3 linked regions of the Homo sapiens genome follow. The protein of the gene in region 1 purifies or fractionates together with the protein of each later gene. This does not show direct contact. Each region holds a gene or a part of one and is shown in the gene's direction. Other genes may lie near its edges.

Region 1 (3,653 bases):
TGTTAAATAAGCTTTGAGTCAAAAGTCAAGAAAGTGACTGAATATACAGTCACCTTTTATGAAATGAGTCTCTGTGTTACTGGGTGGCATGACTGATTGAGGTGAAGCTCACGGGGCCAGGCTGACCGTCTTGACCGTTCCACTTGAGATAGGTTGGTCATCGTGCAGAAGGCCCCAGGACCTCAGCACACACAGCCTCCTCTTGGTCTGAGTAGGCATCATGTGGGGGCCAGATCTGCCTGCTGTTTCCATGGGTTACATTTACTGTGCTGTATCTCAGATGTTGGTGTCTGGAAGTTTATTCTTAAGAGACTGCTACCCAGCTGGTCTGTATTATTGGAAGTTGCAGTTCGTGCTTTGGTTGGCCTTCTGGTCTAAAGCTGTGTCCTGAATATTAGGGATCACAATTCACTGAAATACAGCAGTGTGTGGAGGTGATGGCCAGTTAATCTGCTGAACTGGTTTTGACTAATGACAAACCTCTTTTTAAGATGGTAGAATGGAGGTGATAGTCACAAAAGTAAATGTTCCATTTTTATGAATGACTTTCTACAGAGTTTCTATTTCTAAAGAAAAAACAATTGTTCACATCCCATCTGATGATTAGCATGTGTGTAATGAATGCTGTCTTGGTCTCCCCTGTGGAAACCCTTCTCCCTGTGCCTTAGAGCAGGTGTGTACATCTCTCACTACCTTTCTCATGGGTGCTGTTAGATTTTGGCACCCGTTTTCTCAGCATTCAGCCCAGGGAATGTGGTTTTCACTTCTTCGTCAGATAAGACCAACATGAAGGGGTATGTTGAGAAACATCCTGAGGCAAGGTGGGAGGTGGGATGGGGCAGGACTTTCCCTTCCAAGCACATGCATGGCAGGTGGGGAAAGGGGGGCTTGCACCCCTGCTGGAAAGAAAAGGTTTGTGTATATTTCTGATGCAAATGTCATACTCACTGCTCTGTAAAGGCAGCTGGCAGCTTTTTGGGAAAAGAACGTGCTCGTCTGTTCTCTGGCATCAAGTTTCTTGCAGCTGCTCTGAGGGAGAGACAGTGAGCTGCAAGACTGCCTCCCCATAACAACAGGCAACTCAGAGAAGAGTCATTTTATGTTGTTCCTATGGAATCTGGAATGAGTGCAGAGCTCCTACCCACACATGACTGCCCCGCCATTTCATCCTAGGCATTCTGTGAAGGAGATTGGTTAGTCCAAACTTGCTAACATACGAAAATTCACTTGGAACATGATGAGAGATTTCTTATTGAGGCCAAGAGATGTTTCCTGTCCCAGAGGAACCATTAGGAGTCGCTTTTAGGGTATTCAGCTTTGTTCATGAAATAAGGCATCTCTGAGAAAGTGGCCCCAGGGAGAGAATGGAGGACTGGGAGGAGAAGCATTAACTGAGCTCCAAGGGTGTGTGGGCAGAGAGCTTGCTATGTGAACTCACTCCTTAAGAAAATGGAAGAGAAAAAGAGAGTGCTAGTTAAAAAATCGGGATGTTTTAGTTTGGATTTAGGGTTTTGATACTTATGTTGAAATACTAATGTTTCTGATCAATAAAATCAAACTCTTAATATACCGAGTAATGAAACCATAGTGTGATTGCCTCAGAATAAATTGAGAAGTCCAACTTCCTAGTTTTGTTTAATTAGTTTCACTTTTTCTACTCTCCCCAGTATGCTAGAAATGGGAATCGTTGCCCTGCAGATTACGGCAAAACATCTGTTTTAAGCAAAGCTGCATTTTTTGACTCAGAAATTGTCCCAGACGGTGGATATAAGATGAAATTCAGAAAAACGTTCTGCCAAGTCACAGGCTTTTAGATATTATGGAAACAAGAAATGGAAAACAGGATGATCTCCATGAGAGGCCTTGATCCTGAGAGTAAAAGGCTTGTGTAGATAGGTTAGACAACGTCCTCTAGAAAAGAGACCAGGGATAAGTCCAGGTTTCCAGGAAAACCAAGAAGCCTGCGGGTAGCTGAAGGTAGAGTGCTAGTTGTTCATCTTAACTTACCAATGAGCTACAGAAAGGACTTAGCATCTGATGTCATCAGCTTTGCCAGGAGAGTGATCAAGGAGGTTAAAGCTCAGGTAAAGGTGTGCCTTCTCAGAGATTGGCTACAAGCAACAGAGACCACCTCAACAGAGACCACCTCAACAGACTCAGCCCAGCCATACAAGGTGCCAAAGCTCCTCCAGAGGGCTGTCTTGGGCCTTTGAGGCAATTGATCTCCAGAAAGAGTCAGAAGTCATTCCAGTCCAGGCCCAGGTATTCAGATGGTGACCCAGCCAGATAATAGTATCTTGAGCAAATAATAGTATCTTGAGTGCAAATAAGCAGGAAGACTGTCCTTCAAAAAATGTGGGGTTACATGATTTTCAGAGCCTTTTTTTCAGAGTTGAGCATCTTTTCTTTTAAAAGAAATAAGGGGCAAGAGGACCAATTTTATTCCTTGAGGAAAAATGACACACCCTTCTCCCAAAAGAAAGAAAACTCTCTGGCCCCCCAACTTCAACACTAATTTGGCTCCCTGAAGAAGAGAGAAAATATTATTTCTGTCTTTATTGAAGAGAAATGGGCAATGCCAATGTGAAGGTTACTAGTCTTTTTTATTTTCTATTGGTGAAGACTACTACTGCTCTTATTTAGCAGATCTTATACCTTCAGTGGTCACCAGTATAGCAGGTGAGGTATAAGGAAAACAGCAGTGTGATGATAAATGGTAATTAATATACTTTGTCTGTGTCAGCAATAGGGAATGGTGGGGACTGTGGCAAACTGAAGCGCCCCTGTTCCACCCACAGTGGGTAATTTTCCAGTCGACTGTGGCCATGAAGTACTTCCTGATCTTCCCATTTTTCAAGAAAAGCTGACAATCTGGATTTTTATATGAAAAATTCTGATTTTAAAAAATATTGGCAACTAAGTTAAAATTCAAGTGAATTTAGACCCAGCAGAAGACATGGATGGACCTGATTTGGTCCACTGACTACCAGTTTGTTAACCTGTGCTTTATAAGATTTGAAGGAAAGGCATTCATGGTAATTACAGACGGTGCCACCAGAAAATGCTCTTGCTAAATGCAGCCAGTAGTTAGATTGCTTCTTTCTCCAGTCTCCCCCGCAAAGAAATTTGACGTGATTCTGAATGCACTGGACATGTCTTGATTGCGTCTTTACATTTCACAGTGTCTTAAAAGAAAGGCAAGCCAGTTGTTAATTTCAGAATCAGATTTATGCTCTCTCAATTTAAAAAATGCTGGGAACAATTTCATTTTTTTTTTTTTGAGATGGAGTCTTGCTCTGTTGCCCAGGCTGGAGTGCAGTGGCGTGATCTCGGCTCACTGCAAGCTCCACCTCCCGGGTTCACGCCATTCTCCTGCCTCAGCCTCCTGAGTAGCTGGGACTACAGGCGCCCACCACCACGCCTGGCTAATTTTTTTGTATTTTTAGTAGAGACGGGGTTTCACTGTGTTAGCCAGGATGATCTCGATCTCCTGACCTGGTGATCCGCTTGCCTCGGCCTCCCAAAGTGCTGGGATTACAGGCGTGAGCCACTGCGCCCGGCCTAACAATTTCATTTAAACTCCACAACCTAAAGGGCTTTGTTTATAGTTTTAGCTCTTGGCATAATTTTTTTCAGGTGGTGTGCAATTCTGA
Region 2 (3,653 bases), on another chromosome or scaffold:
GTTTTTCAGTGAGCACAGATTACTGTGTAACCAGGAATAACATTTATTTTCTAAATGTTCCACAAATAATATATGCTGTGAATGGGGGAATATGCCAGGGCACCAGTAGCCTGTGAGGGCAAGAGGAGCTCAGTAGGGATCAGTTTCTGCTCAGCGCCTGGGCTGGGCCCTGAGGTGTTGGCGTTGAGATGGGAATGGGCTGTGCAAAGAAAGCACCCCAGGCTCCTGTACCAAACGACTCAGACTGGTTGTATCTGCAAATTGAAGGCCTGTAGGAATGTAGGTGGGACCAAAGGTGGTCTCTAGAGTGCCTAGAGTTAGGGCCAGGAGCCAAGCAGGGCGGGGATCATATTGTTGCAGGGACATAGTTCATCCCATTACTTACTTATGGAATCCCATCGCTTAAGACTGATGAACATAGCATTTTGTCCTGAGACAGACAGATTGAGCACAGCAAATGCCAACAGGAAGCCAGTAAAACGGGCCTCACATCAGACAGGTTCACCTCAGATGAGCTTAGAACTCCTTGTTGCCAATGGGGGGAGGTGGGTTTAACTATCCAAATTGGAAACAGAACCTGAGATAAAGAATTTAACAAAAAAATGCATACAGCATCAATCATTTGAAACATAAGTAAATCTGCAGAAAACATATCATAGTCTGGGTAAACCCCTTCCCTGCAAAAAGACCAACGCTAAGATTCAAGATCTAGGCAGTTAAAATCTGGAATATAATGATTGTGGAACTCTGGAATTTTCCTGAGTTCTGGACAAGGACCGGAAGCTCCTGCAGGTGCTGAGGCAGGGTGGGGAGGACAGGACACACACGCAGAAGCAGCGCGCACAAACCCCAGGAACGCACCAGGGCCAGGGTGCCCAGAGGTACAGGATAGACGTGGCTCATCTTCCCAGAAGCCTGTTTTGCTCAGGATTAGTGAAAAGTAGGAAGTTGTAAGTGCTCACCATTAGTTTAATAACAACTTTGCTTTGCAGAGTGGAGGAGGGAGGAAGCTACCTTAACAGCACACACTGAACTCGAGCCCGATGCTAATTTCAAAAAGATTAAACCATTGAATACATTTACATCCTAGGATTAAGAAAAGTAATTTGAAACATTTTAATATTAAAACAGACATGGATGAAGATAGAGAGTAGAATGGCTGTTGCCAGTGCAGCGGGGGATGGGGAGTTGTTTAATGAGGACAGCTTCAGTTTGGGGAGGTGAAAAAGTTCAGGAGATGGATGGTGATGATGGTTTTACAACAATGTGGATATACTTCATGCCCTTGAACTGTACACTTATCATGGTTAAAATGGTAAATTTTATGTCATTAAACTTTTTCTTTCTTTCTTTCTTTTTTTTTTTGAGACAGGATCTCTTGCTCTCTCACCCAGGCTGGAGTGCAGTGGTGCAATCATGGCTCAGTGCAGCCTCGACCTCCCGGGGTCAAGCCATCCTTCGGCCTCAGCCTCCTGAGTAGCTGGGAGTACAGGAGCGTGCCACCACACCTGGTTAATATTTGTATTTTTTGTAGAGACAGGGTCTCACTATGTTACCCAGGCTGGTCTCAAACTCCTGAGCTTGAGTGATCTGCCCTCCTCAGCCTCCCACAGTTCTAAGACCACAGCTGTGAGCAGCCATGCCTGGCCGTGAATCTTTTATCACAATTTTTAAAAAAGAAATGTATGAAGGCATAGGAAACAATTTTCTATAATTTTAAGACGTAAAATATGAGATTTTCAGTCCATTCTGCTCAGGATCACATTCCCTCTCCCCATATTAGTGGAAAAGTTGGAGAATCCACAGTTAAGGAGGCCTCAGGATCTTTTGCACAGAGCAGTCCTTTTAGCCATAAATTACTTAGTAGTTCCCAGAGTTTATTTATAACTCTGAACAATGCCTTCCCTACACCACCATTTTTGCTAACAATGAGATCAGGAGTCTCAAACGCAAGGAAAAGAAGAATGGAATGGAGTGGGTGGGTCTAGGCGGGGCTGGGGCTCGGGGGAGGCCTTCAGCTCCCGTCACCAGGAGGCCCAGAGGGGAAGGGTGAGAGAGGCAGATAGCTTGGGGCTCTGACAGAAGGACAGGGTCCTCTTGAGGTTGCTGTAAGCATCAAAGGGGCTCATGTGTGTAGGAGGCAGGTCACAGGCTTTGCCCATCACATGTCAGACGCGAGAGGACATGGGATGAGTGTGTACTAGGTGGCCGTGGCTTTATATGTTAGTATCTCAAGCCTCATCACAAGCATCTTCGTTTTACAGACGACCACACAGCGGCTCTGAAAGGTTGGGTAACTTGTCTAAGGTCATGTGGCTCACAAGTCATGGAGCCAGAATTTGCATATGGGGTAGCCTGGCTCCATCTCAGCCCCGGAAGAGGCACTGAGCCCTGGTGTGCCTTCCCAAACAGGCAGCTGAGTGCTCCCAGGAAGACGGTGTTGGGCCGCTCAGCCCTCTGACTCACACCTCAGAGCAGCCTGGGGCCCTCCCATCCTCTCCAAGTTTCCCTGCCCAGCCCCACCCTGGGCCCCAGTGTGTCCCCGAAGCACCAGCCAAGGAACAGCTGCCCAGTGTACATTCTCTGTTCCGTCCACTCACCACTCTCCATTTTCCTATGCACTCTGGTCTTTAGGATTCAAGAAGGGTAAGATTAGCAACCTTCAGCCTGGGAAGTTGCCCCTGACTTCTCTCTGGGCTGTTAACTGACTGGTGCTAACCTTGAGGGGCAGAAGATGGGTTTTCCGTGACACTTCTGGGATACACAGTGGCCTGATGGCCTGGTCTCACTGTGGCTCTGCTGATTTTTGGCAGTGAGCGCGGGGAGGCAGTTTCACTGAGTTGACCTACTGTGTACTGGGTTATCATAGTGCGATGCTGAGTAAGACAAGCTCCTGGCCCGCACCAGGTTCACCAACTAATACAGGAAAGTGACAAGGAGGCAAGCCATTAGAAGGCAGCACATGAGTGGTGGCACGCACCAGCAGTCCCAGCTACTTCGGAGGCTGAGGTGGGAGCATCGCTTGAGCCCAGAGGTTCAAGGCCAGCCTGGACAACGTAGTGAGATCCTGTCTCTTAAAAAATAAAAAAGAGAGGCTGGGTGCAGTGGCTTATACCTGTAATCCTAGCACTTTGGGAGGCCGAGGTGGGTGAATCATCTGAGGTCAGGAGTTCAAGACCAGCCTGGCCAACATGGTGAAACCCCATCTCTACTAAATTGGGCGTCATGGCAGGTGCCTGTAATCCCAGCTACTTGGGAGGCTGAGACAGGAGAATTCCTTGAACACGGGAGACGGTGGTTGCAGTAAGCCGAGATTGTGCCACTGCACTCCAGCCTAGGTGGCTGAGCAAGACTCCGTCTCAAAAATAAAAATTAAAAAAATAAAAATAAAAAAGAGACAGCTCTATTCTGTGAAAGTTGTGGAAACCAAGGGGAGGGAGGAGCACCTATTTCACCTTGGAGAGGGTCAGCCCAGTGTCCGTTAAAAAAGCCACCTTTAAATCAGTTCTGAAGGATGGAGGAGGTGGCAGCAACAGGACAATCATCACTCTAATTCCCAGGGCTTGTCTTTGTTGACTTAAACCATTTTCTTAGGGAAGAAGAACTGAGCATATGCGAAATTCATTTATACCGCTCTGCTCCTAACCTGCCTC
Region 3 (3,653 bases), on another chromosome or scaffold:
CCTGTCTCTTGCATCATCAGTTTTAGCTTTCTACTGGATCATTCCTAAAACATACGTAGTCTGTATTTGCATTCACTAGCTTCTCTTTTCCCCTTCTTTCTTGAGCTGACTCCATTCAGACGTATTATGCCAGTACTTCAGAATTGTTCTTGTCAAGGTCACTAGTTATCTCTACATCACTACATTTAAGGAATCATTTTCATTTCTCATCTTGACTCTCAGTAGCACTTGACCTAATTCATTACTTTCTCCTTCTTACAGACAGCACTTTCTTCAGTTGGCCTCCGAGATACCATACTAGCCTAGATTCCATCTTACATCTCTGGCCGTCTGTTCTCAGTTTTCTTTGCTGGTTATTCCTCATCTCCCCAACCTAGAAATGTTGGAGTGCCCAGGGCCTGCTCATTTGGCTTCTTCACTTATCTGTCTGCACTCATTTCCTTGGTAACCTCATTCATTATTATGGCCTTATATACCATCTGTTGGCTCATAATGTTTTCCATCTTATACCTGAACTCTATACTCATATATCCAACTATTTCCTTTACATCTACTAGAAACTCAAACTTAATATTTTCCAAACTGAGTTCCTGATACTTCCTTCAAACTCACTCTTCCTTTAGTCTTTCCGCATCTCAATTAATAGCCCTCAGTTCTTCTACTAGCTCAGGTTAAAAACCTTAAGTTATTCTTGACTATTAGAAGACTATTTAGGCATCTTGGTTCCTTTTTTGTGCTATCCTTAAGTTTCTCTTAAAATGGGTTTGTTTGGATATCTTCATTAGCTTGAAAAGTCTTATTTTATTTCTGTTCCTGCCTGGCTAGTTTATAAAAGAATGTAAGTTACATAATACCAAGTGAAGCATTTGTATTATTTCCAGCCATTAGTCATAAATGTTTCTGCTTTTCCTAGGCTCATTCATGGACATTGCTTCTACAAATACGAGTAACAAAAGTGACACTAATATGGAGCAAGTTCCTGCCACAAATGATACTATTAAGCGCTTAGAATCAAAATTGTTGAAAAATCAGGCAAAGCAACAGGTTTGTTATGTTATTACAAGTAAAACTGGTAACCTTACCAGTAGTCACAATATTATACTAACTGAAATTAATTATTTACCATCTTCTATTTTATAAATCCTGAATTTTCTTCCTGAAACATGCAAAAGAGCTTACAAATAGAGACACGTAATGAGATTCTCCTACCATTTATTACCAAATGGTTTTTCCTTCTAATGATTGCTACCTTTGCCAATTCTAAATCCCTATCTATAATAATCCCTAAATGTAATGGTTGATGGTTAAAAATGTAAAATGGGTATATTTTGGCTGCGCTGCCCAGTTAGAGGAGTTGTTCTAAGTCTATCATTTCATGCTGTTCAGATTTATTATATTTTTGCCATTGTTGATTTTTAAAAATATTTCAAGGAGTGAGTTTATTCATTTTGCCTGAGGCATTTAGGTTAACGAATAATTGGGGCTTTTAGCTCCCAGTTCTAGTGACTGCCTTTTCATAAAGACAGTATCTGCAGCTTGCTTTCCCTTACCCCTGTAGCTCCCTCTCGTACAAACTTCCCTCTCCTTTCAGAGCAGAACAGGATCTATCAGAATCCCATTTGCCATCTTCCTCCTTTTAGGTTGCCTAAGATTGCTAAATCTAAAGAACTTCAGTAATTCAGATTGACCTGTAATTTTAACAGAGTGAATCTGGACGTTTAAGCTTGGGAGCCTCCCGTGGGAGCAGTGTGGAGAGCTTGCCCCCAACCTCTGAGGGCAAGAGGATGAGTGCTGACATGTCTGAAATAGAAGCTAGGATCGCCGCAACCACAGGTAAAAAGGAACTACAAGTCTGAAGAGTGAAAATGTATATAAGCCTTTTTGGCCATGGTAGTTTCAGTTGTCAAAGGTTTTTTGTGTGTGTCTTATATTTTTTTTTAAATAGGAAGTAGGTTTACAATATATTTTTCTAAGTTACTAGCAATAGTTTATGCATTTATCTCAAATTCCAAATAAGGAAGGTATGACTTGTAAAATTATTTGGATGAGAAAGTATGCCTTCCTCATTTACAGATTTTATCAAATGTAATTCTTTCTGCTCAAACATGAGTTGAAAGTCTAAGTGAGAAATTGAAATTCTGCCAAAACCAGAATATTTTGGGGATTTTCAGTGATACTACTAGATTTTTGTGCTGAACTCAAATAATAGCAAATATTTTGTTTCAAATTTAACAGAAAAATGTATTCCAGATCCATGTATGATTTGACCTTCTATCTGCTTCTTCATTCCAGTGACAAAATAATAGCTAAGCTGGTTGTGGTTAATTTTTTTAATTGTAAAATAAAATATCATAATTTTATTAGATCTTGAAAAAGCTAGCATTTAAATTCCATTGTTCAGTTCTTAAAATTATTAATCATGGAAGAACTGGTCAGCACAAAAACAATTACATGTTTTGTTACTTAAGTAAACTGACAACCTAATTCTGTGACCAGGTTTCATTTTAGTAATGCTGGTTTAATTTGGACGTTTTTGGTTTTTTGCTGATTCTTTCCAGGGATCAGGGGGAGCTGATTTTAAAAGTAAACACGTTTCTGTTGTGGAAAATGTGGAAATGTAAACAAGCCAAAAAAACTTACATAATTACCCCACTCAGAGATAAACACTTAACATTTTTGTGTATTTACCCCATCTTTTAACTATGTATGTGTATAAATGTATATATTCATGTGTATTTGCATCTTTTTTAACTTAGCTAACCAATTTTTTAGGTCTTTTTTTCACTTATTTGGTTTTTTTCTAAATAGAATATTCTCATTGTGTGTGGAGCTCTTTTCAGAAAGAAGTTGTCAAGATGGACCATCATACTATACTTGTCTTCAACTAATCATGATCATTGATTTTATCAGCTACTATTAGAATCCATTAGATATAACAGAATATCCGAAATAACAGTGTCTATAACACATAAGCATTATTTTTCACATATAAACAAGTCTGGAGGTAGTGGGCTCTGTGATCTTGAAGTAACTGGTCTCCTATTTCTGTGCTGTAATCCCTACTGTATAGCTTCCATTCTCAAAGTTATCCTGTGCTCCAAAATGGCTGTTGAAGTTCCATTTCATCACTTCTACATTCCAGGCAATAGGAAGGAAGACATGGGGGCAGGGCAAATAGACATCCAAGTTCTTTGAAGGAACATTCCCAGATGCCTCTCTTAACAACATCCACACATCATTGGTCAAAGTAACATGGTCGAATGGCTACACGTAGCTCCAAGGGAAGAGGAGATCTGCCCTCTTTTATCTGATGACTTTTCTGTCCTAAATAAAATCAGAGTACTATTGCTAAAACAGAAGGGAAGAGTGGAAACTGGCAGAAGATAGCTGTGTCTGCCACAGATGGGTCTTCAGAAACTATCAAGTTGAGTAGAAGTCACCAGCCACTGACAAGCCCATGAGTCTCCATGAGTCACAAGTATTTCTTTGGAGCAGGGTTGTCTCACTGTAGTGTCAGATGAACCCTACTCACCGGGACATACCCTCATGCTTTGAGGAACCCTTTTCACTTCAGGGATGTTGTTCAGGATAGATCTGCCACATACTAATTGCTGTCTCAAAACTGAAAATTGTTATAATAATGGTTTCATGTC

The links.
Region 2: the proteins of IL17RD (region 1) and KLRG2 fractionate together in Homo sapiens (co-fractionation; one large-scale study listed by BioGRID). This does not show direct contact.
Region 3: the proteins of IL17RD (region 1) and MAP3K7 purify together in Homo sapiens (affinity purification with western blotting; one study listed by BioGRID). This does not show direct contact.

The regions. Positions count from the first base shown.
Region 1 is NC_000003.12:57,092,216-57,095,868, reverse strand, and holds part of IL17RD (interleukin-17 receptor D isoform a precursor), read left to right. Parts: 3' UTR 1-3,653. UniProt on the Homo sapiens protein: Feedback inhibitor of fibroblast growth factor mediated Ras-MAPK signaling and ERK activation. Regulates the nuclear ERK signaling pathway by spatially blocking nuclear translocation of activated ERK without inhibiting cytoplasmic phosphorylation of ERK.
Region 2 is NC_000007.14:139,456,092-139,459,744, reverse strand, and holds part of KLRG2 (killer cell lectin-like receptor subfamily G member 2), read left to right. Parts: intron 1-3,653.
Region 3 is NC_000006.12:90,545,438-90,549,090, reverse strand, and holds part of MAP3K7 (mitogen-activated protein kinase kinase kinase 7), read left to right. Parts: intron 1-913; coding exon 914-1,044; intron 1,045-1,703; coding exon 1,704-1,833; intron 1,834-3,653. UniProt on the Homo sapiens protein: Serine/threonine kinase which acts as an essential component of the MAP kinase signal transduction pathway. Plays an important role in the cascades of cellular responses evoked by changes in the environment.